Linked DNA regions of Homo sapiens: all the other regions are reported to be linked to region 3. Evidence: microRNA targets listed by miRTarBase, many of them from high-throughput screens and not tested one by one. Region 3 holds a microRNA gene; each other region holds the end of a gene's coding sequence. Distances are from middle to middle.
What was found. Region 3 holds the annotated microRNA hsa-miR-665 (ACCAGGAGGCUGAGGCCCCU, at 1,335-1,354, opposite strand). A microRNA usually pairs through its seed, bases 2 to 8, with sites in the 3' UTR of a target mRNA and lowers its output. Matches are read on the target gene's strand: a 7mer-m8 pairs with bases 2 to 8, a 7mer-A1 pairs with bases 2 to 7 and ends in A, and an 8mer does both.

Region 1: the mRNA of NPFFR1 is a reported target of hsa-miR-665. Seed matches in the 3' UTR shown: 7mer-m8 at 1,871-1,877 and 8mer at 3,583-3,590.
Region 2: the mRNA of MTMR7 is a reported target of hsa-miR-665. Seed matches in the 3' UTR shown: 7mer-m8 at 2,897-2,903.
Region 4: miRTarBase lists NPTXR as a target of hsa-miR-665. Seed matches in the 3' UTR shown: 7mer-m8 at 379-385 and 7mer-m8 at 3,126-3,132.
Region 5: the mRNA of VPS26C is a reported target of hsa-miR-665. The part of its 3' UTR that is shown has no 7-base or 8-base seed match.
Region 6: the mRNA of AQP6 is a reported target of hsa-miR-665. Seed matches in the 3' UTR shown: 7mer-m8 at 1,070-1,076 and 7mer-m8 at 1,255-1,261.
Region 7: miRTarBase lists MTHFD1 as a target of hsa-miR-665. The part of its 3' UTR that is shown has no 7-base or 8-base seed match.

The regions. Positions count from the first base shown.
Region 1 is chr10:70,250,582-70,255,159 of GRCh38, reverse strand. NPFFR1 (neuropeptide FF receptor 1) reads left to right here. Exons shown (of 4, transcript NM_022146.5): 4 at 1-4,578. The coding sequence ends at 203. Among named protein-coding and RNA genes, the nearest start is that of PPA1, 19 kb to the right of the region's middle.
Region 2 is chr8:17,296,238-17,300,855 of GRCh38, forward strand. It overlaps MTMR7 (myotubularin related protein 7), which reads right to left. Exons shown (of 14, transcript NM_004686.5): 14 at 557-3,987. The coding sequence ends at 3,625. It overlaps VPS37A (VPS37A subunit of ESCRT-I), which reads left to right. Exons shown (of 12, transcript NM_152415.3): 12 at 1-1,787. Among named protein-coding and RNA genes, the nearest start is that of VPS37A, 52 kb to the left of the region's middle.
Region 3 is chr14:100,871,811-100,876,428 of GRCh38, reverse strand. It overlaps MIR665 (microRNA 665), which reads right to left and starts at 1,396; the gene lies at 1,325-1,396. MIR337 (microRNA 337) reads right to left here and starts at 1,936; the gene lies at 1,844-1,936. RefSeq lists an enhancer at 2,588-2,757.
Region 4 is chr22:38,818,880-38,822,879 of GRCh38, reverse strand. NPTXR (neuronal pentraxin receptor) reads left to right here. Exons shown (of 5, transcript NM_014293.4): 5 at 47-4,000. The coding sequence ends at 271. Among named protein-coding and RNA genes, the nearest start is that of NPTXR, 23 kb to the left of the region's middle.
Region 5 is chr21:37,221,604-37,226,181 of GRCh38, reverse strand. It overlaps VPS26C (VPS26 endosomal protein sorting factor C), which reads left to right. Exons shown (of 8, transcript NM_006052.2): 8 at 556-2,760. The coding sequence ends at 638. It overlaps DSCR9 (Down syndrome critical region 9), which reads right to left. Exons shown (of 3, transcript NR_026719.2): 3 at 4,446-4,578. Among named protein-coding and RNA genes, the nearest start is that of DSCR9, 15 kb to the right of the region's middle.
Region 6 is chr12:49,975,069-49,979,570 of GRCh38, forward strand. It overlaps AQP6 (aquaporin 6), which reads left to right. Exons shown (of 4, transcript NM_001652.4): 4 at 397-2,071. The coding sequence ends at 603. LOC105369764 (a long non-coding RNA gene) reads right to left here and starts at 437. Exons shown (of 3, transcript XR_001749143.2): 1 at 230-437.
Region 7 is chr14:64,457,384-64,462,001 of GRCh38, forward strand. It overlaps MTHFD1 (methylenetetrahydrofolate dehydrogenase, cyclohydrolase and formyltetrahydrofolate synthetase 1), which reads left to right. Exons shown (of 28, transcript NM_005956.4): 27 at 831-924; 28 at 2,376-2,642. The coding sequence ends at 920. It also overlaps a transcript of ZBTB25 not described here. Among named protein-coding and RNA genes, the nearest start is that of AKAP5, 5.8 kb to the right of the region's middle.

The sequences.
Region 1 (4,578 bases), not on the chromosome of region 3:
CCGGCGGGCTTCTGCACAGGCGGGTCTTCGTGGTGGTGCGGCCCAGCGACTCCGGGCTGCCCTCTGAGTCGGGCCCTAGCAGTGGGGCCCCCAGGCCCGGCCGCCTCCCGCTGCGGAATGGGCGGGTGGCTCACCACGGCTTGCCCAGGGAAGGGCCTGGCTGCTCCCACCTGCCCCTCACCATTCCAGCCTGGGATATCTGAGGGGGTCCAGGGAGGGCGGGACGCTGCCTCAGGGCCCCGATTGGACACGAGATACATGCAGGCGATAGCGGCCTGGTGTGGTTAGGTGAGGATGCGTGGTCCCTCCCTCTCCAGAGCCAGGCAGTGGTGGGCAGCTGCTGGTGATGTCTTCTCTGCTGCCTTCACCCTCAGTAGAGGCAAATGCGGGGGACGGGAAGGAACCAACTTGCCCTGTGTGGTGGGCTTGACAAACATCATCTCACTGAATTGTCACAACGCTTTGGAGATAGGTTGTCTTCTCTTCCTTCTACAGATGCAAAAACTGAGGCCTGGAGAGATGTGACTCACCCAAGTTTCTCAGGTGGAAATGGCATGTGAAGCTATCTGACTCCAATACCTGTGTGGTTTTTATCATCTCCAGCTGGCTCCAAGAGGGCCCGGTAAGGTAGAACACTGTGAACTGAGTAAGTCCTAATTAGGCAGCTAGGAAGAAGCGAAAAGCAAAGCCGGCCTGTCCCTTGATGCTTTGTGTCCATGTGAGGGAGTCCCTCATGTTCCGTTACTGAAGCCACTCCCCTTGATCCTTTTCTAGAAGAACACGGTGTGCCCCCGCTGCCGGCTCTAATGTGTTGGTTTGTCTTGTTTGTTCCAAGAAGTTCCAAGAAGCCATTGTCCTCAGAGGACGGCAGCTTCAGAACGAGCCTTGGGGAGGCTGCCTCAGTTGCAGGGCACTCTAGGTCTTGCCCTCTGGGTCTGAGCTTAGAGAACAGAGGAGGGACTCCCAGACCAAGGCAAGAACTTACAATGCCACAGACATTGTAATGCTGCAGGGCCACAGGAGGTGTCCTTTTACGTACTCATAGACAACGAGGAAGGGGAAGCACGGTATGCATTTTCCACATTGGGAAACACATCTGCTCACTGGGGCTGCAGGTACAAAGCCTTGCCCAAGGTCTCTCTCCTCCCTGCTTCCTGGGAGGGAGAAGTTGGTCAACTGAAGCTGCAGCCGGAGTGCCATTTGGAGACTCCTGAAGGACACACACTAAACTCTTCCCCAGCACAAATGACTTGTGTACTCTAAGGAGGTACCAGGAGAGCCCTGTTTACTCTGGCTTTCCCCCAACACCCCTGCATCAACTTGAAGAAATGTGGCTTCTTTCCAGGAGACGGGAGCACATGGGATTGCCTTGGAGGGTCCTTTCACAGGCCCCTTCATCTTGCACTTAAATGGACATTTCCCCCCACCTCTGTAGAAAACACGGTGTTGCTAGAAATTTAGTAAACAAAAAAGAAACGTTTCCAGGGGTCGGGGCTCTGAGGCTCTGTTCCCTTAACCGACACACAGTGACTGTTTACTGTTTGCTCCACTCTAAGTTCCAGGTTTAGGGGCAGAAGAAAATTCCTAAGCAGTTGTACAATACATTCTCCAAGCATGTCCCCAGACACCGTCTCATTTAATCCATAGTAATGAGGTTGAAGGAGATTGAATGTTATTGTCATTTCACAAAGTGACTGAAGCTCAAAGGGGCCAAGTTTCCAGGGCCACAGAGGGGCAGGATTTAGATTAAAATTTGTCTTCTGATTGTTCTTCCCACCCCACATGCTGCCTTTCAAGGAAGGTGGGGATGACGGGAGAGCTGGTAATTTCCCCAAAGGCTTTTTTGCCTAACAGTGAACCAGAATGCCCACTCCTGGTGCCCAAGCTCTTGGTCTGGGAAAGAAATCTATTGTGTTTACTCTCGTAATGTCCAGCCTGAGTTGTTCTTGCCCTGGTGCTGAGCAGGCTGCCAAGAGCCATCATGACCTTGTCCTGGTTCTGGGGGTGATGGATGAGGGTCTGAGAGAGAGTATGCCCTCCTGCCCCTCAGTGGTATTAGCTGGTGCCATGCATTTCTGGTACTGTATCAGTGTCATGTGTCATATGGGCCAGAGAGTTCCCAGCTGGTTCTGGGCTATTTGTTGTGAAGAAGTCTGACTCCAGGCTCTAAAAGTAAGCCAGAGAAAGGGCCGTCTCAAACCCAAAATGCCTATCCCTATGGCTGGGTGGGAATTGTCTGAAGACACCACCTGGTGTCTCCTCTGGGGTGTGTTTCTCCTTTAGCATAGCCTCCCCAAGTACAAGATCAGCATTTGAGGCTGGGGGCGGGTAGGGATACCAAAGTACTCACTCAAGCCAACCTTTCCATCACAGCCCCTTTGTCTTCCCCCAAAAGATGTCATGCTTTGAAAGGTTATAACTGCCCAAAAAACTCCTTCAGCTCTCGCTGAAGGTTACAATTAACATATTTTGCTGTTATTTTTGTTTCTTCTAAAAAATCAATCAGAGGCTATACCTGCCCATTCAGATCTGAGTGATAACAGGCATGACAATGCTTTAATGAAGCAGTGAGACATTGTGGGTATGTGGGGAGTTCGTTTCTTTGTGGATGTGGTAAAATATAAATAATATAGAATTTACCATTTTGGCCATTTTTAAGTGTACAGGACTGGAATTAAATATATTCACATTGTTGTGTAACCATTACCACTATCTATTTTCAGAATTTTTTATTATCCCAAACTGCAACTCTGTATCTATAAACAATATCACCGCATCCCCTCTCCTCCTAGCCCCTGGTAACTACTATTCTACTTTCTGTCTGTGAATTTGGCCACTCTAGGTACTTCTATACAAGAGGAATCATACAATACTATCCTTTTTGACTGGCTTCTTTCACTTAGCACAATGTCTTCAAGGTTCATCCATGTTGTGGCATGTGTCAGAATTTCTTTCATTTTAAAAGCTGAATAATATCCCATTGTCTAGATAGTCCTCATTTTGTTCATTCATCCATCAGTGGACACTTAGGTTGTTTCTATCTTTTGGCTACTGTGAATAATGTATGGAGTTTTTAGATGCTAGAAGTAGTTCCTGACAATAGTGCCTGTGTGAATCCTGAGGACAGAGACCCCAGGTTGGGAACCAGGGTCTCTCCCAACTTACCCTTTATGGCTGACAAAACAGAGGCTTCCAGGACAGCTGTGATGTGTCTCACTTCCCTGTGCCCACCCCAGCTGCTCTGGGCTTCTGCTGGGCTTTACTTCCTGACTAGAGTGGCTAGAAAATTGTATGTTTCCTCTACAAGATGTTTTTATGAAGCTATTTTATAATTATAGATTTATTATCCTCACTGGATTCCTATGTTCTGACACCTGGACCCTGACGGGGCCTTGTGCAGCCTAGGCGCCCACGGGCAAGTGGTGTGGACCATTCCTGACACGCCATCCTCCACCTCCAGGTTGGCTGGGTTTCCTAAGGTGACTGCCCTTTCATAAGCGGCAAGTTCGGAGATGAACGGCATGCGTGATGGGGGAAAAGGGCCAGAGGCCTGTTGACACTGAGCATCCCCACCCAGAGGGCCTCCTGGAGGGACTCTGTGTCCTGTCCTGCCATGTGCGGCATGAGTGGTCACCCTCATTGTGGCTCTCCACTGATGAATGGCCTCTTGACTTTACCAAGACCAGGCAGCACCCAACAGACCAATGTGAGCTGGAGGCGGATGCCGGGCCTGCACCCCACAAACCACAGTCTGCCCAGCCCTGTGCTGAGGAGTCTCTCTTGGGGCCTGGAGGACTCATGAGCTGATCTGCATTGGAATGGAGGGCGAAGTTGGCAAAGGAAGATGAGAGCCCCCCTATCATTAGTCTACTGTGTATTCATCCAAAAAGCAAGGCGAGAGCCAAGCCCAGAGCTGGATGGACAAAGGATTGCTATTAAGCTCTGTACCTTTTTGCACCCGTTTCCTCAGCTCACCCCTCAGAAGTGTCACTGATGAAAGATAGATGAGAAGGAGGCGGTCTAAATGGGCTTCATTACAATGAACAATGTTGAATGAACAATACATTCCTTGTTGAATAACCCAATTATTTATGATCATGGCATTTTATTGTTGTTTTTCTCTCTCTCTACAAAAGCTCTACATAATCATTGTGGAAATTTTACAAGATTTCAATAAGCAAAGACAAGAAAATGAAAAGCACCCAAAATCCTACCGCAAGAGACAAGTATAGCGTCCTTTTCTGTGCATATATCTCTCAATATATTTAACATTCTTGGAACAGCTTTATTGAGGCAGAACTTGAATATGAAAAAATTCACCCGTCTTAAGTGTACTGCTTGACGAGTTTTAACAGTTGTATATAGTTATGTCCCTACCACACTGAAGATATTTTCATCATCCTAAAATGTTTCCTTGTGCTAATTTATAGTCAGTCCTTTCCCACGCTCCTGATTCCAGAAAACGATGATCTGATTTCAGAATGTCATGTAGATGGAATCAGACAGTTTGCAGCCGAGTCTGGTTTCTTTCACTTAAAATGATGTTTGCAAGATTCATTCATGCTGTAGCATGTATCA
Region 2 (4,618 bases), not on the chromosome of region 3:
ATTTAGTCTGTTTGTGGAGGGCAGGTATTCACGTGGACTGAGATACAATGTTGGATACAGAAAATAACTTTCATTGTCTTCCTGACACTGTGCTAAGGACATGCTGTTAAAGCTTCAAAGTGACCAGATGAGGAAGGAATAATTAATTATTACTCCTGATTTGTAGATAACTGAGGTAAGAGTGTTTCAAATTTATGATAGTCTTTTGGGTATTCAGAAACCTTTCCTTATACTGCACTGGCCACCAGAGCTTAATTTTCCCAGCAGTTACAGCAATGGGAGATAGAACAGTCTCAATCTTTTGCCAACCATCAGGTTCCTAGAAACCAGGTAGGTGTATCCCATAACAAGGGAGGAGCATACCACAGCCCCTCATTTGATTAATTCATTTGATCTATCTATGTTATTAAGTACCTACTAGGAATAAGGCATTGTGGAAATACTATACAAAGATAAACATTGTTTAGATGCTTATCTACTTTCCTTTTCACCAGAAAAACAGAAAAAAAAGAAACATTTTCTTACAGAGTAAAAATGTTCTACATAATCACATGAGTAGTTCATCTCAGTGTTTTTTATTCTTTAAAGTTGAACTATCCCAGTTTCATTCTATACCATTCATTGGATAACCTTGTTACAACCCAGTCATGAAACAGAGCAGTGTGATCAGTTATCTGCATTTAACAAATAGACAAATCAGTTTACATAAAGGTTATGTATGTCACCCACGATGAAAAGAATCTGCATTTGAATATGCCCGTATGAATGTGGGTTCTGTTTTTGCAACAGAGATTAAGTGACCATTTTTTCTAATTTTATGGCTATATATTTTCTTCATAAAAATTGGTCACATCGGAGAAGCAGTGCCACAGGAAAAATGAAATGCATGTGAAAGTTTGTATTCTGATTTTACAAGATGAGATAGAAATCAGAATTAAAGAGGAATACTTAGGAGTTACTAGGCTAATCAGTGTACGAATTTGTCATAGGTAGAGATTTAAAGGTTAATATCTTAAAATAGAAGAAAATTCTAAATCAATCAATCAGTGAGATATAAACTAAACAGACCCACTTCAAAGTTGAAAGAAATTTCTAGGCATAAATTGAGACTAGGAAATTTATATCAGAATAGAGGGTGCTTGACACATATATATGCTTAAATTGAAGGACAGCTCAGATTCATTTTTAGGAGAAGAAAGTAAACTAATGTGCTCTTAAAGAATAAAAATTTATTCTATGGTTTCTGTCTCTGATCATCACCTTCCATTCTATAAAAAGCTCAGTTACTGATTTGCTGGGTCATGGTCAAAATTCTTACCTATTTATTTCATATCAACTTTAAAAAATAAATTACTTGCATTCTATATATTACTAATTGGGAAGTAATATGCCTCAAATCAGTTTTATACTGGATTATTCCCTATGCTTTAAACCACTGCTCTCAATAAAACACTTCCTGATTAATGTTTGATTATTAGATATTTTAGTCTTGTTGGGGATATTTTAGTCTTGTTGGGTTAGCCATGCTCTGAAGAATCTGTGAAAGTACAGTAAAGTTTTAATAAGCAATAAATGTAACCTTTTATATAAATCTCAGTGCTAGGTTAACTTCTAATAAGCAGACGAACATGTTACATAAATTATAATGTCTGTCTTGTAAAAAAGTTGAGGGGACTAAAAGTTTATGACTCTGATATGGAAGTTGTCATATTAAAAAACTACATTTTAAAACATCAAATATTTATACTATTTGCTTTTCAAATAAAAGCATAGTGCTGTTTGGCATAGATACTTTGTCATTTTTTAAAAAATGTTTATTGTTTTTATAGACATACACTGTCAAACGGAAGAAATTAAAGCCACATCCTCAATATTAGGCAACAGAGTTTCTAAGAGTGGACAGCTCCAAGAAGGTTGTGAAGTGAGTTATGTTATGTTATAAAAATGTGAAAGCCATTACCACTATATCCTAAGTTTTATTTTAGCAAGGTATTCCCTATTACATATAGTATATTGCAGAAAATGAATAAACATTCCTTGTACTTAATTTGGGAACTGCTCAGCAGAGAATGCCCAAATTTTATATTCTGAAAGAATTAATTACACTTGCTTTATTTTTTACATTAACAGTACTTTTAAATCACAGTTCTCTAATATATTCTATATTTTTAAATATGATGAACACAATTAAATGTTTTCATTTATATATATTGCAACACTCCCTCCAAATCTTTCATACTAGAGAGATCAGCAATGTTGCTTTCTTGCCCTCGTCCTCATTTCAGCGAAATGTAATAATTCTCCCATTAAAAAAAATCAGATATTCAAAATATTGATGTAAATTGTAAAGTTTAAATTAATCCTTTCACATATTCAAAATATTGATCTAAATTGTAAAGTTTAATCCTTTTACATTCTAGAATGTACTAATATATTAAAACCATACAGTGTGAATACCATTTATTTATGTCCAAACATGGCCACTTTTCCCCACTAAGTTTAATTTAGGTCACCTAGTGAAGTCTTTTTTAACTCATAAGATAGGGGAGGGACTCTCCCTTAAATGTGCAGTGTAACAAAACAAAAATTCTTTTCAGAACTTTCAGCAGTCAGTGGTCATGAGATGTTACTAAGGTTAATTAAACCATATTAGCCAGTTACATAATTTCTAAAATGATAGATTACAAAACCTATTCCCTTCATTAAACAGACATGACAACCCAATTCTCTGGTTCTTGAAACTGGATTTTCACTCACAGATGTTTTATCTACTAACTTTATAATGTGATACTTTGAGATCAGGCTGGTGGCTGGCCCACACTGTCGGTAGTGTAGTCTCTAGAACAGTAATAAAAGGTTATTACAAGAAAGCTGATACTTAAATTCATATGTAAGACCAGGAGAATGAATGTTGCTTCTACCTCGTTAGCTATTAAATCAGTGTTAGAGAAAAAGTGAGATACAAGGTTTAGCATTTTTAAATAATGAGGAGAAACAGACTATAGATCTCAGAGAAAAGCAACAAAATTATTCTCACAATTCAAAATATATGCTCCAAGGAAAAGTTAAAGTGATGATTATGCCTGAAAGATAAGCAATTAAAAGCTCCTTAGGAATGCATCTATTAACTAAAAAGGGTGCATCTCACCAATGTGCCTGTTTTTAGAAATATGTATAAGAGGGTCGGAAAGGAGGATAATGTCAGATGCTTTAGAAAACACAAAATATGCATCTAGAAGTGAACTAAAAGAATCATGATGATCACAGATGTGAGGGAAAGGAGTGGAGGCTTTTTGAGAGATGCATGCTATGACAAGGAAGATAGATACTGATCACTTCAGGTAATGACAGAAGTAATTGCTCTGCAGTGAATATAATTTTCATAGTCTAGGGTGAGCTTCAAAATGGTGAATAATTTTCCTTATATTTGATAAATGAAATGACTACGTCCTCTTCAGTATCTAAGAAATCAAGAACTGGGCACTTTTTTCCCTTTTCATAGCTGCATTAAAGTAGTTCTCAATGACATGCACCATTTCCTGTTTTTACAATAAACCACCTTGTTCCCTTGTTTTTGGAAGTGTTGCTTATGTGTCCTTTACTTTGGAACTCCAAAGGGAAACTTCAGGCAGTGAGAAACACGGCTTCATCAGAATCCCGGTCCTTGCCACTATCTTCACTCGGTGCATGCTCACCACCACTTGGAGACCGACAGCTCAAATCCTCCACCCCGGACTCTTGGTCACTGTTGGCTGACAGATCTGGATCTGAACTTTTCAGATTGTCTTGGGTTAGAATCAGAGCAGAATCTTCATCGCCTTGTGAAGGGCTCCGGGATGGAAATGATTTCATATTCCCACTGTAATCCTGGGGAGTGTTGGCTATGCTGTTGTCTGAGGTAGAAAACCCTGAGTGCTTGCTGGGCTCACTTTGCTTACTCTTCACCTTAGTGCAATTTAACTGGACCTTTTGAATTTTTTCCAGCCTCTAAGAAAGAAATAACAATTTCAGGGGAAAAATCATAAATAACTTATCTTTTTCTATATATGCATGTCTTTAGCATTTGTTACCTCCCACGTGGGTATAATGTTAAGAACATGTGACTCAGAGGGATGTGAGTTCAAACCTGGACTTCACGACCTTGGACAAAATCTGTGAGGCCTGCTTTATCTCTAATGTAAGGATAATACCTGCCTTGACATAGGTTTTCTATAATAATAAACAATATAGCACAGTTGAAGCACCCAGTGAACCCTAGTCTCCCTCTTTTCTATACCTACATGGTTTCAAATGATGAGTCTCATCCCATGAACTCAAAAAACATTTTTTAGAAATCATGAATGAAGTGTTTATCATCTAACTTTTATACTGAGATACAATTCACTTACCGTGAAACTCACCCTTTTAAAGTATACAATTCAGTGGTTTTTAGTTATATTCACAAGGTTGTGCAACGATCACTACTAATTATAAAACACTGTCATCACCTCCCCTGCCGAAAGAAAACCCCATACTCATTAGCAGTCATTTCCCATTCCTATCTCCCCACAGCCCCTGGCTACTACTGATCAACTTCTATCTCTATGGATTTGCCTAGTCTAGATGTTTTATATAAATT
Region 3 (4,618 bases):
ACACTGGCACACAGGCCCACGGGACCTGGCGGGCCACAACTAAATGCACCCATCTTCCACCTTCTCTGTCCACCCCCAGGTCACTGATGTCAGGGGATGGAGGGAGCCCTGAGCTCCACTCCTGCTGAGTCTTGTCCATCAACCTCCCTTCCCGACCCAGCCCACCCCCATGAGATGCCCAACGTGCCAGCCTCCAGCCCTGGTGCACACAGGGCCAGTTTCTGGAACACTCAACAGCACACCACCCAGGCAGCTGAGGGCTACTCACCGCTCGGGTCCGGACTCGCTCATCCCTCCTGCAGGCGGCCCCAGGTCCAGTTAGGGCCTTGGACTCAGGCCCCCGTGCCAGGAGCTTGACCAGCTCTTAACAATCTGCCCAGGGCAGAGACGTGAGGTCCCCTCCTGCCCACCTGGTGACCCCGGTTGCTCCCAAAGTGAAAAAGAGAAAGACAACAAATAGAAGCCATCACCCCCACTCCCAAGCTCCACCCACCCGCTCAGAGCCCTGCTGCGGGGACGACAAGACCCTTGTCATGCCCCAAGCCCATGAGCACTGACCTCAGACCCAAACAGTAAGCCTCGTCCAGACCCCTGTCCACCTGTCTGAGATCAACAAAGACAAGCATACCCATCCTGACACCACAGAAGCTGAGGGGTAGACCAGGAAGGGAGCGGGTGCATGGGGGAAGCGGGGGTGAGGAAGGGGAGACGGGAGGTGGGAAGGAAGGGCAGGGGAGAGGGTGCTCCCTCCTGCAGGAAGGGAGGGGGTGCATTGGGGAGGAGGGGTGAGAAAGGGAAGATGGGAGGTGAGTGGGAAGGGCAGAGGTGAGGGTGCTCCCTCCTACAGGAAGAAGGGGTGCATGGGGAAGGAGGGGTGAGGAAGGGGAGATGGGATGTAAGTGGGAAGGGCAGAGGTGAGGATGCTCCCTCCTGCACCCTCTTGTCCTCTCTAATGGCCTCAGCTACTGCAAGGCCTCTCTCCCCACACTGGCTGCCCTGCTGCCCCGATGCTCATGCCTGGGCTGGCTGTCGTGGCTTGTTAATGGGGTTAATGATGCCAATATCACAGGGCTTGGTGCGGGTCACCTCTGCCATGCACAGGACCTGAGTTAGTCAGAGAGGCAGAAGACAGAGGTCCAAGAACCAGGGGCCACGGCCGTGCCCCCTGCTCATGTTGCCATTGGGCACCCTCAGGTACCCAGCCTGAGCAGGGTACGCACAGGGGAAGAAGGGAGCCCAGCTGACAGCTTCTGGGGACCCAGAGTTGGGAATCCTTGGGGAGAGGGGAAATGTCTCCAGAACAGGTTTAAGGAGAGAGTAAGAAGCCGCCTGTGAGGGGCCTCAGCCTCCTGGTCATGAAAGAGTCCTGGGTAGAGGCAGAGACCCCTCGAGGAGACCCTCCTCTTGGGGCACAGAAAGGGCCAGCCCTGGTCCGCCAAAGCCCCACCCCCTCCACCCTGGGCACAAAGGGGCACCATCTCTCCAACGTCTGTCCATCCATCCTGTGGGCCGGGTCCCTTTGGAGGGCTCTGTGTGGGAGCACAGCCCCAGCCCCTCAGTGGGAGAAGCCCCAGGGCTACCCAACTCCCCCTCCGGCCTATCTGCCCTTGGCTGTGGAGTCAGCCCAGGGGGTGTCCCACCAGGGGCATAGTTCCCTGCCAAGGAGGGGCCTCAGAGATGGCCCAGCCCCAGGCCCTCCCCTCCAGGAAGTCAGAGAGCTGCAGAAGAGAGAGAGAAGAGCCCAAGGAGCATGCCGGGAAGAGGCTGGCAGGACAGCAGCGGACTTGAGGACGCGTCCCCGTGCAGCCAAGGGTGCAGAGGAGGGTCCGGGGGCTGCGCGTGGTTGAAGGGGATGAAGAAAGGCATCATATAGGAGCTGGATAACTGTGCATCAACTCCTGTATGAAGCCGTTCCCACCCCCCAACTACTGACTACGGGCCGCAACCCTCCTCCCGGAAGCGCAGTGCAAGCGCTCGGATGGCAGAGGGGACGCCTGCTGCTAGTGGTTAGAGCAGTGACAGCAAGGGACAGCCAGCCTAGGCAGTGCCACCCACTGCTGGGCACCTGCAGCGCTGGGGTACCTGTCCACCCTGCCCAGCCTTGCCCTACCTGCCTCCTATGGCCAGGGCCTGGGCCTCCCTTAGCCCCACAGAGCCCCCAGGTGACTGTGCAGCCAGGCCAAGGGACGGAGGATGGGGAGGTGAAGGGGGAGACAGGCCTGATTCTGGCCCAGGTCTGTGAGTGGACATCGGGGACTCGACCCCACCCACCCACTGCTTTGACTCCCTGGTACTTCTCCAGCCTTGCCTTCTACATCTGTGAAATGGGTTGCAACAGGCACCTCTGGGGACCCAGTGAGGACTCATGAAGTCCAGGGGCACTTCAAGAATTTCCCAGAGACAGAAAGTAGATTTTTGGTTGCTGAGGGCTGGGGGGTGTGCATGGAGGGTGAAGGTGACAGCTGAAGGCTCTGGAGTTCTTTTGGGGGTGATGAAAATGATCTTAAATTGATTATGGTGATAGTTGCAGATATCTGTGAATAACTAAAACACACTTCGCTGTGAGCTTTAATGGGCGGATTGTGTGTATGTGGATTACATCTCAATAAAGTTGTACCCCAAAACACCTTCCTTTGTTCTTTGACATCTTTCTCAACCACCATACTGCCTGCCTCGTCCTACACTCTCCAGCCATCCACACCACCAACACACATGCACAGGGACACGCAGCCAGGCACGTGGTAGGTGGTGCAAAAATATCTGTGAGTAAATGACCTGATAATATAACATTCTCTGAAAGAGCCCATGGAGGGAAACCTTTAGGGAAAGGGGTTAAAGATTAAGAAGTAGGGGTGGCAGGAGGGTATGGAGGTGGGAAAGAGGCTCAGAGTGACACATGAATGGAAAAGGGGCTCAGATTGACAGACACATGGAGGGAGGAGGGGCTCCCTGTAACACATGGGTGGAGGAGGGGGCTGGTGTGACACACGGGTGGGGGAAGAGCTCCATGGGACACATGGGTGGAGGAGGGGGTTGGTGTGACCCATGGGTGGAGGAGGGGGCTGGTGTGACACATGGGTGGGGGGGGTTAGTGTGACACATGGGTGGAGGAGGGGGCTGGTGTGACACACGGGTGGGGGAAGAGCTCCATGTGACGCATGGGTGGAGAGGGGGTTGGTGTGACACATCAGTGGAGAGAGGGTTGGTGTGACACATGGGTGTGGAGAGGGGCTCCATGTCACATAAGTAAGGGAGGGGCTCAGGGCAATGCATGAGTGGGGGGAAGGTCTCTGGGTGATGCATGGGAAGGGGAGGACTTCAAGTGACATGTGAGAGAAGCTCAGGTGACACATTAGTAGGGAAAAGGCTCCTCATGACACATGAGTGAAGGAGAGGTGGAATGTGAGACAGAAAAGGGGCTCAGTGTGACGTGTGTGGGAAGAGAGTCTCTGTGTGACATATGGGGGGAAGGGACTTGGAGTAACACAAGAAAGGCGACTTGGTGTGACACGTGGGTGGGAAGAGTCTCTCTGTGACATATGGGGGCAGGGACTTGGAGTAACACAAGAAAGAGGACTTGATGTGACACGTGGGTGGGGGAAGATCTCACGGGACACAAGGTTGGGAAGAGATGCCCAGTGAGACACAAGGGTGCAGGGAGGGCTCCGCGTGTCAGAAGGAGTCCATGCAATACATCAGTGGAGGAGGAGCTCAGTACGACACGGGGTGGGAGAGCGGCTCAGTGTTATACATGCATGAGGTGAGGGGTCCATTCGACAAACGGGCAGGGGGTGCTGTGTGCCTTGTGAGTAGAGGAGGAGCTTCATGTGACATATGAGCAGGAAAGAACTCGGTGTAACACATGGACAGGGACAGGGGCTCCAGGTGACACATGAGTCAGGGAAGGGCTCTGAGTAACACATGTTGAAGAGAAACTCAATGTGATACATGGATGGGGAGAGGCATTCTGTATGACTTATGAGTGTGGGGAGAGACTACATGTGTGACACATGATTAGAGGAGGAACTTAGAGTGCAGCTGAATGGGTGGGGCTCCTAGTGACACACACGCAGAGGACAGGGTCAGAGTGACACCTAAGTGGTGGAAGGAGCTCAGTGTGCTACAAGAGTGGGAGAGGGGCGTCCTGTGACACATTAGTGGGGCTTGCTGTGACACCCTTAAGAAAGATAGAACATTCAGTGTGATACAAGTAGATGAGAAATTATTTGTGTCACATGGGTGGAGGCTCCATGTGACATATGAGTGGAGGAGGTGTCGAACATGACACAAGGATGGAGGAGGAGGGGCTCCATGGGACACCTGGGAGGGAGGAGGAGCTGAGGATGACACATGGAAGGAGAAATGGCTCCATGGAACAGGAGGTGGAAGGAGGTGCTGAGTATGACACATAGGAAGAGGAGGGGCTCCATGGGACACCCTGGAGGAAGGAGGTGCTGAAAATGACACGTGGGAAGAGGAGGGACTCCATGGGACACACGGAAGGGATAGGAAGCTGAGGATGACACATGGGAAGAGGCGGGGGCTCCATGGGACACACAGGAAGGAGGAGGAGCTGAGGATGACACATGGCAGGAGGAGGAGCTCCATGGGACACAAG
Region 4 (4,000 bases), not on the chromosome of region 3:
TCCCTCACTCCATGCCTCTCCTTTCTCTGCTGCTGTCTTGGCCCAGGATACCCTGGGTGGCCGGTTTGATGCCACCCAGGCCTTTGTCGGTGACATTGCCCAGTTTAACCTGTGGGACCACGCCCTGACACCAGCCCAGGTCCTGGGCATTGCCAACTGCACTGCGCCACTGCTGGGCAACGTCCTTCCCTGGGAAGACAAGTTGGTGGAGGCCTTTGGGGGTGCAACAAAGGCTGCCTTCGATGTCTGCAAGGGGAGGGCCAAGGCATGAGGGGCCACCTCATCCAGGGCCCCTCCCTTGCCTGCCACTTTGGGGACTTGAGGGGGGTCATATTCCCTCCTCAGCCTGCCCACGCACTGGCCTTCCCTCCTGCCCCACTCCTGGCTGTGCCTCCCATTTCCCCTCACCTGTACCCACACCTCCAGAATGCCCTGCCCTGCGAGTGTGTCCCCTGTCCCCACCTGAGTGGGGAGGAGCGTCTCAAGTGAACAGTGGGAGCCTGCCCACCTGGCACTGCACTGGAGTTGTCTCTTACCCCACCCTCCCTGCCCATCAACTGTATCTGATTTCACTAATTTTGACAGCACCCCCAGTAGGGTAGGATTGTGTATGAGGGGGACCCCACTATCTCAGTGGTGGGGGTGGCCGCCCGCCCCCTTGTCCCCCATGCAACAGGCCCAGTGGCTTCCCCTTCAGGGCCACAACAGGCTGTAGAAGGGGATGACGAGGACATCAGAGGTTAGACTTACCCTCCTCCCTCTTTCCACCAGCTGCCAGTCAAGGGCAGTGGGATCTCGATGGAGCCTCCCCCCCCCCCCACCCATGCCTCCCTCTTCCTCCTCTTTCCTCCTCTCTTTGTGTGTAGCGGTTTGAATGTTGGTTCCATGCCTGGCCCAGCCCCACCTCAGTCTCCAGGACATTCCTTTCCCAGCTCCAGCCTGGAGGGAAGGGGACAAAGACCCCAGGAGGCCAAAGGGCTGCAGTCACCCCTTGTGCTCACCCATAGTGATGGCCACTGGTATAGTCATCGCTCTCCCTCCATGCCAAGGACAGGACTTGGACCGCTTCAGCCTGGGCTGGGAGCAGCCCTAAGGTAGAGGCCTCATGGCCCAGGAGACCCCACCTCTGGCAGAGCCACATTACCTACCCTGTGCATGGTCCTGGGGCAGCAAGGAAGAAGCTCAGAGGGTGGGGAGAAGCATGAAGCAGTGAGCAGAGCACTGGGTGAGAGGGAGAAGACCTTGGTTCCTAGCCAGCCCTGCTAATGTGCTGTGTGGCCTTCTGTAAGTCCCTGCCCTCTCTGGGCCTGGCCTTCCTCATTCGTGAGCTGAGGCCCTCGCTTTGGTCATTTGCTCTCCAGATTGGGTGTGAGCTTCTCTGTGATTCCAGGTGGATATGTGGGGAAAGCTCTGGTGACCCTGGGCTTCGCAGGGGTAGATCCCAGGACTCGGCAGTGGATGGGATGCAGCCAGTCATGGGTTAGGGTCAGCAGAGACTCAGAGTCCAGGGCAAGGTTCAAGGCAGACTAACCTCATGCATGGATTGTAAAAAACCAGCTCCCTTTGGATCAACCCAGCCTGGCACCCTTGCCTGTCTGAGAGTGTCTCAAAGGGCTGATGGCTTCCTGGTCCCCTTGAGTCATCACCAGCTTCCCCAAGAGAGTGTCAGAATCTTAAGAGCTGAGAGGCCGGGCACGGTGGCTCACGCCTGTAATCCCAGCACTTTGGGAGGCTGAGACAGGCAGATCACTTGAGGTCAGGAGTTCGAAGTCAGCCTGGCCAACGTGGTGAAACCCCATCTTCACTAAAAATACAAAACTTAGCTGGTTAGGTGGTGCATGCCTGTAGTCCCAGCTACTCGGGAGGCCGAGGCAGAAGAATCTCTTGAACTGAGGAGGTGGAGGTTGCAGTGAGCCGAGATCACGCCATTGCACTCCAGCCTGGGCAACAGAGCAAGACTCCATCTCAAAAAAATAATAATAATCTTAAAGATGAGAAAAGCCACCCCATCTGGCACCACAGCTGCATCTTGCTTGTGAGAAATGGGGAAGAGTTCAGGGAGGACACGTGACCTGCACAGGATCACAGAGCATGGGGCAGAGCCAGGACTAGAGCTCAGGGCATCTGACTCCCTCTTCAGTGTTCTTCCCCCTCCATGTTGCCTGCCCCTGAAGACCTTTGAGTTCAGTCTACACCTAAGCAGGTAGACATCCGCGAGGTCAGATGCTTTCCAACATGACACCTGAACATCTTCCTTTATGCAACACCCAAACATCTTGGCATCCCCACCCCAGGAAGTGCGGGGAGGAGGTTATGATCCCTGGGCGCTTCGGCAGAATGGAGAGCTGAGGTGTCCCTCCCCTGCTAGTCACCTACCAGGTGTCTGAGCAGCTGCATGCTCCCTGGCTCAAGTGGGCACTGTACCTTTTGCCTGCCTTTTTGTTCCCTATCTCCACTCCCTGAGGCCACTTAGCCTGAGACATGATGCAAGAGCTGCAGGCCGGGGGGCTCAGTGCCATGGAAGCTACTCCAAGTTGCATTGCCTCCCGCGCCCAGATCCTGCTTTCCATTTCGAGAACATAAATAGATTGCCCAGCCCCTCCAGTACAATCCCACTGGAAGAAAAGGCAATGGCGGGCTTCAGCCAGACCTGCTGAGACCTAGGTTGCCACGGTAACAGCCAAAGACATCAACCCAAGTGCTGGGTCAAGTGTCTCATCATACTGGCACTGTTGCTGGGGTGACGGCAGAATTCAGAACTTCAATTTCAGTGACGCCAAGCTTGATGTGTTTCTGTTATTGTTTTGAAGAAGGTAGCTCTTGTGGAGGACTTGGGAGAAGGATGGGGTCTTAGGAAGGAGGTGACAGCACTTGCATGGTCACTTGAGCCCACACACACGCTCAACCCCAAGTCCTTTATGCTTTGTCACAGTGAAGATGAGACCTCTGACGTCCAAGCCTTGTTCCTGTGCTGCATCACCCACTCAGCCTTCCAAAGGGAACAGGAACAAATTTCCCCAGCACCACTGTTTGGGTCCCGCTTTTCCTATCTTCTGCTGCCCCTGAGCACATCCAAGCAGACAGGGAAAGAGGAGTCAGACATGGCCCAGTCACATCCTGAGCTGCTCCTGGCTGATAACCACGATGGAGCCCGTGTTTGTCCTGCCATCTGGCACTGCACTGAGTGTGGCACAGGCACCGTCCTGTTGATCTCACAACACAGTTCTAAGTTAGGACGTTCTTGGCTCCGTTAGACAGGTGAGGAAACTGGGGCACAGAGAGGTGATGTCATCTGCCTGGTGTCAATCAGCTAGCAAGTGATGGAGCCCAGATTTCAAACCAAAGGGGGTTACGTCCAGGGGCTGAGTTCCCACTCACCTGTGTAGAGTGCCATCTGGGCACCATTGCTCCAGACGTGTTCCGACCCCTTTCCCAGCCCACAGGGCTTGAAGTGAAGGAACAGAGGCAGGGGGTGGGCCAGCCCCAGGGCCAGGGTCCCCTTGGTGAAGCCGTGCCAGGGGGCTCAGCTGCTTCAGGGAATGTGTCCCTCCCACCATGGGCCAGAGCTTCAGCCCTTCTTTAGCTCAGCTAGAGTTCACAGGAGAGCCAAAAAAGAAAAGGAAGCTGAGCATCTCCCGAGTCCTGGGCAGGGAAGGGGAGGGAAATTGCTGCTTCTCCAACTCTTGCTTGGGGCCAAGCCCTGCACCAGTTGCTTCCCAGCTGTTATCTGCCAGATCTTCCCATCTTGTGGCATGTGGTGCCCCCACCAACATCCCAAGGGGACCAATCCCCTTGCCACCACTTTGCATCACCTGGGACCACAGATTTGGACAGGAAGGGCTCTGAGAAGAGGCCAAAGCCCTCATTTTACAGATGAGGAAGCTGAAGCCCGGGGAGGGGAGCGACCCTCAAGGCCACCCAGCTGGACACGGGAGACTTGAGCCCAGCCTTCTGACTGCATTCAGCCCTCTCTAGGACGCAGCAGCCTCTCCCCAGCACT
Region 5 (4,578 bases), not on the chromosome of region 3:
AACAAGGCTCACCCATATCAGCTGAAGAGTCGGTGGAGAAGGAATCCTGTTTGCTGAAAGGTGATGGATGAATAGTATCCAATGGAGCAACAATGAAATTGTTGCTTCTGAAGACTGTTTCTCACCTGGGGATTGGGGACATGGGCCCAGACAGCTATGCGCTGGTTCACAGTCTGCTATTTCATTAAGAACCGTAGGAAATGTAAAAATAAGGCAAAGGAATACAAATGAATTGAAAGGGTTCTAGAATATCCTTTTTAGGAAAGCAAAGGGACAGGGAAAGTGTAGTTGGTGAAGCCTGATCACTCATGTTCCAAGATGAGAGGACAAAAATTCACTTAGAGAAAGTTGACAGAGGTAGTCAGACATCAGCATAGTCATCTCCACTGAAAGTTTGGCTGAAAGGTCAGGGTGGCGCTGAGGGGACAGCAATGAAACCCACCCGCACCGGGTGCTCCTTCGCCGTTAGAGCTTCCTGCGACTGCAGTGGTGGCGGCGTGTGGTTTCGCTGCTTGGTAACAGTGAGCACAAACCCACCCTCTCTTCTCTTCTCAGAATTTGAGGTTAACATCGTGGTGCTGCTTCACCCTGACCACCTCATCACGGAGAACTTCCCGCTGAAGCTCTGCAGGATATAGCCCGGAGGAGGGAAGCATAGAGAACGGGAGTGGCCATCTGGAAATCCAGCTGGTTATCCAAATCCTAAGGGGAGCTACAGCCAGCGGCATATACTTGTTTTTGTGATTATTCTGTATCAGAAATGAAACAGACCCTCAAATTAACTTTCCTTCCTCATTTCTTGAGGCTTCTGCTTCCAACAGGCACCTCTAATCAGACCTTTTCTTTGAAATTCAACAAGATTTCTTAATGCTATTTGCCAAGACCATTTCACAGAAAACATTGACTGTGGCTCTTGCCTTATCTGTTCCTTTTTAGGTACAGTAAAACAATTGTGACAGCAGTTTGAGCTTGCTGGAGAGTGGCATCATGGGGACAAAAGGAAACCTCTGACTTGCTAATGGATGTAGCCAGGGACTCCCCATAGCAAAGGGTCTGTGGCCAGTTGACATCCAGGATGGCTGCAAGCGCACTTGATGGTCAGGAAGTTTGCAGATACTCGCCAAGGCAGAGCGCAAAGTGCTAGCCACTGGAAATGCATGACTTCCCTCCACCCCTACTCTATTCTGTAGTTTTTTGGTTTTGTTTCTGAGACGGAGTCTCAGTCTGTCACCCAGGCTGGAGTGATCTCAGCTCACTGCAACCTCCACCTCCCAGGTTCAAGCGACTCTCCTGCCTCAGCCTCCCGAGTAGTTGGGATTACAGGTGACTGCCACCGTGCCCGGCTAATGTTTGTATTTTTAGTAGAGACGGGGCTTCACCATCTTGGCCAGGCTGGTCTTGAACTCCTGACCTCGTGACCCACCCGCCTTGGCCTCCCAAAGTGCTGGGATTACAGGTGTGAGCCACCACACCCAGCCTCTGTAGTTCTTTTTACAACATTTTTCATTATAACTTTAAATTTTTTAAGCAACTGGAAAAGTGTTCCTTGCTCTCTTGGGGGGATTTGGCTGGTGCCGAAGTGTTTCTGAAGTCTCAAGAACTGCCATAAAATCTCACGCTGCCATTTCCCTGAACAGATACATACATAGAGAGAGACAGTTTTCCAAACTGTGTCACGCAGGCTGAGTGCACTGGCAGGATCACAGCTCACGGCAGCCTCAACCTCCCTGGCTCAAGCGATCCCTCCCCTCAGCCTCCTGAGTAGCTGAGACTACAGGTGAGTGCCACCACACTCAGCTAATTTTCAAATTTTTTGTAGACAGGGTCTCCCTATGTTGCCCAGGCTGGTCTTGAACTCCTAGACTCAAGTGATCCTCCTGTCTTGGCCTCCCAAAGTGCTGAGATTACAGGTGTGAGCCACTGTGCCCAGCAGTTTCCCAGAATATATTTAAATGCAAAGTTACATGAGGGGAAAACATGTATGTTTGCTCCTGTTGTTACTGGGTAGGTTCTGAACAGCAGAAACCCATGTGCAGGGTGGGCTGGTGAAGGCCCCTCTCCGCAAGGTGGTAGCAGGAAAAGGTCCTTGACTTGATGAATTTGGTCTGCCTCTGAGCCACTGGAGGAAGCTGTTTTGAGCCAGGGTTTTTTGGCCTAAAGCCAGCATTTCCTCAGTCTCCCTTTGTGGTTCGAAGGATATGGACTATTGCAATACATTTCTTCCTTCAAATCCTGCCACTGTTTTGTTGGCCCACAACTAATAGGACCTCAAAATAAGCCATGCTGCTTTGCACACACACTAGCCTTCTTTTGTACTTTTCATTCTGGATGGGCTTGGCCAAAACAGGCTCAGGCCAAAGACCTCCCAAGCTGTATGTACTTCCAGTATCCTGAAACAGTGTTTGGTGACATAATGCCAAGGGTAAACAAGCCTGATTTAGGCACTGCTTTATCCAGGGGCTTCACCCATGAAATTAATAAAACTTATCTGAGTCACTTGAAACTTGGTTCCCAGAAAACACATTTCTGGTTTATAATCTCCTTTTATGCTCACCTGACATTAATTATCTATCCTTGATGATGTGTTTAAACTGAGTAGCAGAAAACAGAGGCCACACTTTCTGGGAAATTTTAAAGGAAGAAACCATTTTTAATGAGATGAAAATATTTAACGAATTTAAAAAGCTAATGACAATTTTGAGAAAAGGTTTGGGATGTATATTGCTATGTAATTTAATAAACTGATTTTATGGATATAAATATGACTGCTTTCCTTAGAGAATAATTATTACCTGAAGCGCATCCAGACAACGTGGCTACCTTTATCATTTCATTCAACCCTGAGTGGCCCAAACAAAGGCCTCAGGCCGGCCACTTCCTTCCACTTCTTGGTCTGACCTCTCCATGATCTGTTACTAGGCAAAACTCAGATGTTTGGCTACCTTGGGCTGCAACTGTCCCACTCTTGCCCAGGCTTGCTGGAGTTGGGGTTATCCACAGTCAGAGGTTCAGAGTTGTCAAATTCTCCAATTAGAGCAAGAGATGAGGAAAGGAAAGGGAGACGAAAGAAAGAGGCTGTGCCTCAGAAATAATAACGCCGCATATCTACAACTATCTGATCTTTGACAAACCTGAGAAAAACAAGCAATGGGGAAAGGATTCCCTATTTAATAAATGGTGCTGGGAAAACTGGCCAACCATATGTAGAAAGCTGAAACTGGATCCCTTCCTTGCACCTTATACAAAAATCAGTTCAAGATGGATTAAAGACTTAAACGTTAGACCTAAAACCATAACCTAGGCATTACCATTCAGGACATAGGCATGGGCAAGGACTTCATGTCTAAAACACCAAAACCAATGGCAACCAAAGGCAAAATTGACAAATGGGATCTAATTAAACTAAAGAGCTTCTGCACAGCAAAAGAAACTACCATCAGAGTGAACAGGCAACCTACAAAATGGGAGAAAATTTTCGCAACCTACTCATCTGACAAAGGGCTAATATCCAGAATCTACAATGAACTCAAACAAATTTACAAGAAAAAAACAACCCCATCAACAAGTGGGTGAAGGATATGAACAGACACTTCTCAAAAGAAGACATTTATGCAGCCAAAAAACACATGAAAAAATGCTCATCATCACTGGCCATCAGAGAAATGCAAATCAAAACCACAATGAGATACCATCTCACACCAGTTAGAATGGCGATCATTCAAAAGTCAGGAAACAACAGGTGCTGGAGAGGATGTGGAGAAATAAGAACACTTTTACACTGTTGGTAGGACTGTACACTAGTTCAACCATTGTGGAAGACAGTGTGGCGATTCCTCAGGGATCTAGAACTAGAAATACCATTTGACCCAGCCATCCCATTACTGGGTATATACCCAAAGGACTATAAATCATGCTGCTATAAAGACACACGCACGTGTATGTTTATTGCGGCATTATTCACAATAGCAAAGACTTGGAACCAACCCAAATGTCCAACAATGACAGATTGGATTAAGAAAATGTGGCACATATACACCATGGAATACTATGCAGCCATAAAAAACGATGAGTTCATGTCCTTTGTAGGGACATGGATGAAATTGGAAATCATCATTCTCAGTAAACTATCGCAAGAACAAAAAACCAAACACCGCATATTCTCACTCATAGGTGGGAACTGAACAATGAGAACACATGGACACAGGAAGGGGAACATCACACTCTGGGGACTGTTGTGGGGTGGGGGGAGGGGGAGGGATAGCATTGGGAGATATACCTAATGCTAGATGACGAGTTAGTGGGTGCAGCGCACCAGCATGGCACATGTATACATATGTAACTAACCTGCACACTGTGCACATGTACCCTAAAACTTAAAGTATAATAATAAAAAAGAAAAATTGCTTCAAATGAACAACAAAAAAAAAGAGGCTGTGAACAATGAATCTAAAACAATATTTTCTTTTGGGAAATGCCCGTTTTGGCAGGAATACATTTTGGCTCCGCTGTGCTGTGAATTCGGAGGAAAAGTAGGGAGGGCCGGAAAGCCCAGGGCTTCATGCAGAGTAGACATCAAGA
Region 6 (4,502 bases), not on the chromosome of region 3:
CAGCTGGACCAATTTTCAAACTTGGATAAAGAAAAAGACAAACAGAAATAGACACACACACCAGCAGAGACAGAAACAGCAATAGCCAGGACTCCTGGCTAAAACGGGGGAAGTGAGAGGAAAGAGGCGGGGGCGGGTGAGGAGACTGGCCCCAGGCCCCAGCCACGGCTGCAGAGCCTGGGCTCAGCCCCAGGGAGGGCAGGGAGAGCAAGGGGCAAGGTCCCCTTACCTTGTGGGCTTGGGAAACACGACTCGTGGTTCTCAAATTTAGCACCTTACAGACAGTTGAGGGAGACCTGGGAGATCAAGTCGGCACTGGGGAAGCAGGCAGCGGTCCCAGAGCCACCCTGTGGTCCTGATAGCTCCTGGGTGGGGTGACGACATCCTTCTCCTCAGGTCTTCTGGGTGGGGCCCCTGATGGGAGCCCTCCTGGCCTCACTGATCTACAACTTCGTCCTGTTCCCCGACACCAAGACCCTGGCGCAGCGGCTGGCTATCCTCACAGGCACCGTAGAGGTGGGGACAGGGGCAGGGGCAGGGGCGGAGCCCCTGAAGAAGGAATCCCAGCCGGGTTCGGGAGCCGTGGAGATGGAGAGTGTGTGAAACAGCCTACGCCTGGCCGCGCCCTTGGGCTTCCTGCCTTGCAGGACCTGCCTGGAGGTTCTCCCTGGGGGTGGCGGGAGGGGGAGGCTTGACCTTTTGTCCTGACCAGGTGGGCTGGAGGGGACAAGCCCTATCCCTGGCATTACGTTTCTAGGTAGAATCTGGGAGTGAATTTGTCCCATTCCCTCTCTGTAGGGCTTCCCCACCTCTCGGTGGGACAGAGCAGAGGAAGGCAGGGGATTTAGGATCGCCCTCCCATCCTCTCACCCACTGGACCCCGTAGGAGTCCTGACCCCAGATGCCCAAGTCTTGGGGGAGAAAGGAATGGGAGCCCAGACAGCCACTCTGCTTAGACATGGGAGCTATAGGGACCTCAGGGAGCCCCAGCTTCTTACCCACCCAGGAAACCCTTGGTCCAGAGAGGACAGGCTTTCTGGAGGAATCAGGCCCTGGGACAGCCTCTGAGCTCCTGGGGGTGTTTCTCTGACCTTGGGTGTGGTTTTGGGGGCTATATTTCCTCCTTCAGACTGGGGGCTTCCTGAGGACAGAGACTGCTCTACCAATAGATCTTTGTTTGTTTTGAGACAGAATCTTGATCTGTTACCCAGGCTGGAGTGCAGTGGCATGATCTCGGCTCACTGCAACCTCTACCTCCTGGGTTCAAGGGATTCTCCTGCCTCAGCCTCCCAAGTAGCTGGGATTACAGGCGCCTGCCACCACGCCCAGCTAATTTTTTGTATTTTTAGTAGAGATGGGGTTTCATCATATTGGTCAGGGTGGTCTCAAACTCCTGACCTGAGGCGATCTGCCCACCTCGGCCTCCCAAAGTGCTGGGATTACAGGCGTGAGCCACCGTGCCCGGCCTCTCCCAATAGGTCTTTATTCCTCAATCCTCCAAATGCTCTGGAGAGGCCCCCACCCTTGAGAAGAACTGACACAGAGAAGAACATTTTCTCAGGCTCGTAGAGAGGTGGGATAGAGGAAGGGAGGTTTGAGCCAGACAGGCCTTTCCCAGGGAAGCCTCCTCCCAGGTGCTTGCCCCAGCTCCCACCCCACAGCCCACTCTCAGGCAGGAACAATCCTCAGAGGGGAAGTGCCCATCTAGCCATTGACTCATGACCTGGGTCAAAGAAGCCGTCTCCAGGCTCTCTGTCAGCATTACAGGATCCCCAGAAAGCTGTTGAATAAGCCCTAAGGGTGGTAGGAACCCAGGAGGGACCCAGGAAACTAAGATTTGAGATTCAGTGCCTCTGAAAGACTACCAAAATCTAAGTTGGTTTAATAGTTAAAAGCTGCTGTAGATTTATTCTGCCCACAACTTGGGGGTCCTTTCTGGATCTCGGCTTCTCCAGCTGTAAAATGGACACACAATCCTCCTCCAGGGACTGCTGTGAAATCAAGAAATCGGAAAATACTTTCAGAAGTTAAAATGCTAGAAAAACAACCCCAATAAATGATGATTATTGTTGCTGTTACTGTAATTATTGGGTATGAAGACAATTGCTGTTGGTAATGAGAGGGAGGAGGGGAAAAGAGAGAGAGAAAGATGATTGAGAGGGAGGGAAGAGAGACTGGGTTTTCTCTCACATCATTGGATCTACTTAACCAGGGACCCTGTGTGCTCTTCTCCTGGGTCTGCTGACCTTGAGGCTTTGTGGGTGTGAGGGGCTGTGGGAGGGCCCTGGAATGAAGAGGCGAACCAATAAAATCAGTTCTTCTCATCTCTATGACGCCCATCACCATGGTACCCTAAGATGCAGCAGCCAAATTCATATAAAAGATGGGTCCTGGCGGCCAGGCACGGTGGCTCACGCCTGTAATCCCAGCACTTTGGGAGGCTGAGGCGGGCAGATCACGAGGTCAGGAGATCGAGACCATCCTGGCCAACATGGTGAAACCCTGTCCCTACTAAAATATAAAAAATTAGCCGGGCGTGGTGGCGCGTGATTGTAGTCCCAGCTACTTGGGAGGCTGAGGCAGGGGAATCACTTGAACCCGGAAGGTAGAGGTTTCAGTGAGCCAAGATCACGCCACTGCACTCCAGCCTGGTGACAGAGCAAGACTCTGTCTCAAAAAAAAAAACAAAAAAAACAAAACAAAAGATGGGTCCTGGCCTGGTGCAGTGGCTCCCACCTGTAATCCTAACACTTTGGGAGGCCAAAGTGGGAGGATCGCTTGAGGCCAGGAGTTCGAGACCAGCCTGGACAACATGGCAAAACCCTGCCTCTACAAAAAATTAAAAACTTAGCCAGGCATGACGGCTCAAACCTGTAATCACCAACATGTTGGGTGGCCCAAGCAGGAGGATTGCTTGAGGCCAGGAGTTTGAGACCATCCTGGGCAGCATAGTGAAACTTCATCTCTATTATTTAAAATGAAAAATTAATTAAATTAAAATACAAACAAAAGATAGATCCTTTTTAGTGATGTCTCCTGAGGGACTGGGGATGGGGGAAAGGCTGCCCAAGTCTTCCAAGGGCAGTGTGGCAGGCCCAGCCTGTGACCAGTGCAGTAGCTGAATCCCTGGTGCTCATAGCCCCAGTAGCTGTGCTCAGCGTTCTGTAATATCAGCGCAGATACTACTCACATCTCTCCAAGCTGGGCCCCACTCATCCATCTTCACAATCTCTCAGAGTCCAAGGCTGCCTGTGTCCTTTTATGAGCAGGGAGAGCTGGGTGTCTGTATGTATGCATGTATGAGAGCGTATGTGTAAACAGAGGACATGATTGACTTGCTCAAGGTCACCTGGTTCAGGAGCACGAACACTTAAGGTCTCCCCAGCTCCCAGTTGAGAATTTTCCAAAATAGAGCTCCTGGGGGGTTCATACAAGCTGCAGCCCCAGGAAGGAAGGAAACAGGAACTAGAGGATTGAAGGGGATGGGGGCGTGGAGCTCCTATGGTAGGCTCTTAAGCTCCTTGACAAATGATCACTGCTTTTTGTCCCCAGAGCCAAGCACACACTGGGTGCTCAATATAAGTTTGATGAATGAATAAGGCTGGGCAGTTGGGGAGGATGGGAGGCAGTAATAGATCAAGAGGAGAAAATTTCAGGAGTTACAGCTCCAAATAAGCCAGTATGACAGCAGCTGAGAAGCCTATGCTTCCAGGCAGGGGCTGGGGAGAGGGTGCATCGCCAGATATTTGCTGTTCCACCCACAATTTCAGAGCAGGCTTCACAATGTCTGTCCCAGGAACATACAGGCCAAAATATGAGGGGTTGCCTGAAGAGAAAGCTGAGGGGCTATTTTCACTAACAGTTCTTCAAAGCAGTTCTGTCAGGACAGAGCAGGAGGAAATAAGTTTCCTGAGAAGTGGGGAATTAGGTTAGCCTCTGAAGAGCATCCAAGGTTAGACGTGGAAATAAGTAACCAAAGGTTCGCTTCCCCTCCTCTGGAGCCCTTTAATAGGACAGCAGGCCATCTGTTTGGATGAGGGAAGGGCTGGCCTTTGGAGAGCTGAATCTCAGTAGCTCCAGCTGGGGGAAGCAGGCTTCATTGGCATAGCCCCTGGGCCTGGGTGGGGGCAGGGGACATGGGGAGGACAGAGACCCAACCAGGCCAGCCCTTGGTGTGCATTCCCTTCCTCCTGTTTGTCAGGGAAGTTTTTAATTAATGGTGTATAATCTGATCTGACCCTTCTCCCTGCTGAGCACTGCCTTCAATCAGTGGAGCCATCTGCAATTGCAATTCATAATTCTCCCCAAAGGGAGGGGGACTCGGGCCGGGTGCCTTGGTGATTAATACAATTAGCCTTTTATGTTGATGATTGTCTTAGCAGGAGCAGATGATGCTGTGCTGGGAGCCTGGGCGGTCGCGTCCCGATTGGCTGGCAGGAAGCCCCTCTCCGCTTCCCACCCCCACTTTTCATCTTCGATCTACTACCTCCAGGTATAAAGAG
Region 7 (4,618 bases), 36 Mb from region 3:
ACCACATGGAAGATGATAGTGAAGGCTGGCATTTGGTTTGCAGAAGGACATGAGGAATCAGTTTCTTTTCTTTTCCTTTTTTTTTTTTTTGAGATGGAGTCTTGCTCTGTCACCCAGGCTGGAGTGCAGTGGCAAGATCTCGGCTCACTGCAACCTCCGCCTCCCAGGTTCAAGCGATTCTCCTGCCTCAGCCTCCCAAGTAGCTGGGATTACAGGCACACGCCACCATGCCCAGCTAATTTTTGTATTTTTAGTAGAGATGGGGTTTCACCATGTTGGTCAGGCTGGTCTCAAATTCCTGACCTCAGGTGATCCATCTGCCTTGGCCTCCCAGAGTGCTAGGATTATAGGCATGAGCCACCACGCCCGGCAGGGATCAGTTTCTGAGTTTTTTAACAGGATCAGTGACTTGATTTTTAATATGTAACAAGAGTACCCACTTTATTGACAACTATAAAATGATGTTCTATCTTTATGCCTTGGGCTTTCTTTCTGAAGGAAAAGTGAAAGTAAAGATGACTTTACGTTTATTTTAGACATGGCCTTGCTCTGTCGCCCAGGCAATCGGATGATCATGGCTCACTGTGGCCTCAACCTCCTAGCCTCAAGCAATCCTCCTGCCTTAGCATCCCAAGTAGCTGGAACTACAGGCACATGCCATCATATCCAGCTAATTTTTTATTTCCTGTAGAGATGGGGGTCTCACTATGTTGCCCAGGGTGGTTTAGAACTCCTGGCCTCAAGTGATCCTCTCCACCTCAGCCTGGGATTATAGGCGTGAGCCACTGTGCCCAGCATTAGTTTATTTGTAATGCTTTTTTACATCCTAGATGAGCACAATGCCTGGACTCCCCACCCGGCCCTGTTTTTATGATATTGATTTGGACCCTGAAACAGAACAGGTGAATGGATTATTCTAAACAGGTAAGTTGTTACTGGGTAATAATTTGGCTTTTTTCCTCATGTAGCTTATTTATGAATTATAGGGCTCAAACTGACGCTATAAAAATTCACATTCTAATGCTTTCAAAACATTTCTTTTCAGACTTCCCTGAGGGGAGAGGGGATAGTAATGAGAGTTGGCAATAACCAATGAATTGAAATATTTATATTTCAACACATTTTTGGAAGAAGCGCAGCATGGCTTGTCACAGGTTGACAGTGTAGGGGAGAAAACTGCTGTCCAATAAACTACAGAGGAAACTACAGGAGAGGTTAGACTCCCTCTGCTGAAGCCCCAGGAGGCTTGGGGTTCAGAGTTGATGACACATTGCAGGTCAGGAACAGCTGACGGTCTGTATACTCTGAATAGGTAGTTAGAAGGCAAGAATTAGCAAATGTCTTAGGAAGTATAATAGAAAAGAGAAGGAAACAGGACCAATCTGGCAGTTCTTAGGGCCTTAGGTGAAAGGGCCCTGAGTACCGACTGCAATGAGTGACATTGCATTGTTTGATATTTTTGAAATTTCAACAGGACGTGTCTCTCCTTAGGCAGACCCTTGGGGCTGAAGCAGCAAGTTGCAGTGTGCACTTATATCCCTAGACACATCCTGTTGAAACTGCAAAAATATCAAACATGAAAATCCTAACATCTTTCTCCAGAGACGAAAAAAGTGGCTTGCCTATGAAAAGAATGAGAACTAGACTTAACGCCCGTCTTACTGGCAATAAGAAGCTTTTAGACAATGGAGGAGTGTCCTGTAAGGTCACAGGGAAGATGACTTTCAACATGTGCTCACACCTAGCCGAATCTATCTGGATATTTTCAGACGTGCAAGGGTTTGCCACCCCACATCTCTTCCTAAGAAGTTATTTAGCAATGTACTTAGCAAAATGAGGAATTAACCAAGAAAAAAGGAAGACGTGAGTTTTGGGAAACTGAACCCTCATTTGGACATTAGCGAAGGGGCATTCTGATAACCATGCAAATGACCTGAAGTTACAAATCCTGTGTGGAACAGGTTGGGGGAGCACCTGAGAAAAACTAGAAAAAGCTAGAAAAGACAAGGATATCAAAGGGTCATAGTATAAAACAAAAGCTCTTGCATTATTTGAGAAAGTTAAGGTCCAAGTAGAAGCAAACTGTAGTTTGATGCTAGAACACTATTCTTTGAGAGGGTATGTGTGATACTCGAAATGCAGTCATGGCTCACGGCTTGGTCTGGTCTTGAACAGTATTCACACAGTACTATGGAAATACCATGCATCATTTTCAAGTCCATTTATGGACACGCCCTAGAAGAGCTGGTGGCAGGAAAGGATGTAAATGTTAACAGCTTTGGCAATGTGAGTGGGTAATGGTGCAGTATGGAAGGAACAGGAAACATTTCAGTGCTTGCTTAGAGAAAACATTTATTTCTTGTTTTTCCTTCCAGATCACCATCCATCTTCAAGAAGCTACTTTGAAAGTCTGGCCAGTGTCTATTCAGGCCCACTGGGAGTTAGGAAGTATAAGTAAGCCAAGAGAAGTCAGCCCCTGCCCAGAAGATCTGAAACTAATAGTAGGAGTTTCCCCAGAAGTCATTTTCAGCCTTAATTCTCATCATGTATAAATTAACATAAATCATGCATGTCTGTTTACTTTAGTGACGTTCCACAGAATAAAAGGAAACAAGTTTGCCATCTTGGTGTTGCAATATGAATTACAGCCTTAACAGACTGTGCCACAGGTCTCTGCCATCCTTTGTGAGCTCATTTGTCAGGCAGACCCTTGGGCTGAAGATGCAAGTTGCAGTGTGCCCTTTATGATACTGTTGTGTTTAGAGGGAAATGTATGCATGCTTGTGTATTTCTGAGAGGACACATAATTCAGGGGACCTCCTGAGAGGGTTGGGTTGGAAGTTGATGACTTACCTTTTAATCTTATACCTTTCTATATTGTTGAATTTTGTTTTTCTACCCTGAGGAAGTATTGCTTATACAAGTTTTTGCCTGAACTTCCTTGGAATTCCCATTTCTGTCACAGCTTTAGCACTGTCTATGTTTAGAGTGCTCAAGAAGGATGGTCATGCAGCATTAGCCTTAGGTGAGCCTCTATTCTGTTGGTGCAGCAAGTATTCATTGAGTTTCTTCTAAATGCCTGGGCTCCACCCTTCCCTACAGACTTTTTATTTTTATTTTTATTTTTTTGAGACAGTGTCTCTGTCGCCCAGGCTGGAGTGCAGTGGCGCGATCTCAGCTCACTGCAACCTCCGTCTCCTGGGTTCAAGTGATTCTCCTGCCTCAGCCTCCCAAGTAGCTGGGATTATAGGCATGAGCCACCATACCTGGCCCAGACTTTCTTTTTCCTAAAACATTAGGTTGGTAAAAACCACAATTACTTTTGCACCAACCTAATATTTTTTTTCCTCCTCTTCTGGCTGGGCGTGGAGGTGGCTCATGCCTGTAATCCCAGCACTTTGGGAGGCCGAGGTGGGCGGATCACTTGAGGTCTGGGGTTCAAGACCAGCTTGGCCAACATGGTAAAACCCTGTTTCTACCAAAAATACAAAAATTAGCTGGGTGTGGTGGCAGGCACCTATAACCCCAGGTACTTGGGAGGCTGAGGTACGAGAATTGCTTGAACCCAGGAGGCAGAGGTTGCAGTGAGCCAGGATCATGCTGCTGCACTCCAGCCTGGGAGACAGAGCTAGACTCTGTCTAAAAAAATAAATCAAATATTTTTCCTTCTCTTCTTGTTCTTTATCTTCTATCTCTGTTCTTCCTCTCCCATTTGTTTCCTTCCCTTTTTCCCCTTGTCTCCCTCCACTGGATCCTTCCAGAGGATGCTGCATCCCACTGGCGCCAGTGCTAAACACTGCTGATGTTGGCAAAGCAGTATTTTTCCCAGTGACCTTGGTTTTATTATTTTTAATTCCCTAGGTCCATGTCAATGTTGTAATACAGTCAATTTTACAGTCCACAGAAATGATAGCGCTGCCTTGAGAGGCATATGGCAAAGGGGTCACAGTGCAGAGCCCCAGCTCTATGGCAGAGAGCCTCACCCACCTCCCTGCCTCCACATCCTCACCATGGAAATAGGAGCACTGTTGGTACCTACCTCGTGAGGGCGGTTCTGGAATTACTCAAACACATCATCTAAGATGCTTTGTACAGGGCCTGGCACATTGTAAGCACTTGTCAGTTCCTGTTGCACAGCATCCTCCAGGCCCTGTTTGCAGAGTTAATTGCTTCTGGTACTTTTTTTTTCCTTTTTTTTTTTTTTTTTTGGCAGGGGGGGTAGGGGGGTTGGGACAAGAGTCGTGCTCTTTTGCCCAGGCTGCAGTGTAGTGACGTGATCTCAGCTCACTGCAACCTCTGCCTCCCGGGTTCAAGCGATTCTCCCACCTCAGCCTCCCGAGTAGCTGGGATTACAGGTTCGCACCACCATGCCTGGCTAATTTTTTGTATTTTCAGTATAGATGGGGTTTTGCCATGTTGGCCAGGCTGGTCTCAAACTCCTGGCCTCAAGTGATCCTCCCACCTCGGCCTCCCAAAGTGCTGGGATTACAGGCGTGAGCCACTGTGCCCGACCGCTTTCTGGTACATTTCTTAATGTCCTGTGAAACTTCACCTGGAATGGGATTTGCTGGGAATTCATTTTGTAGACAAGGGAAGGATGCAGTCTTGTCAGATATGG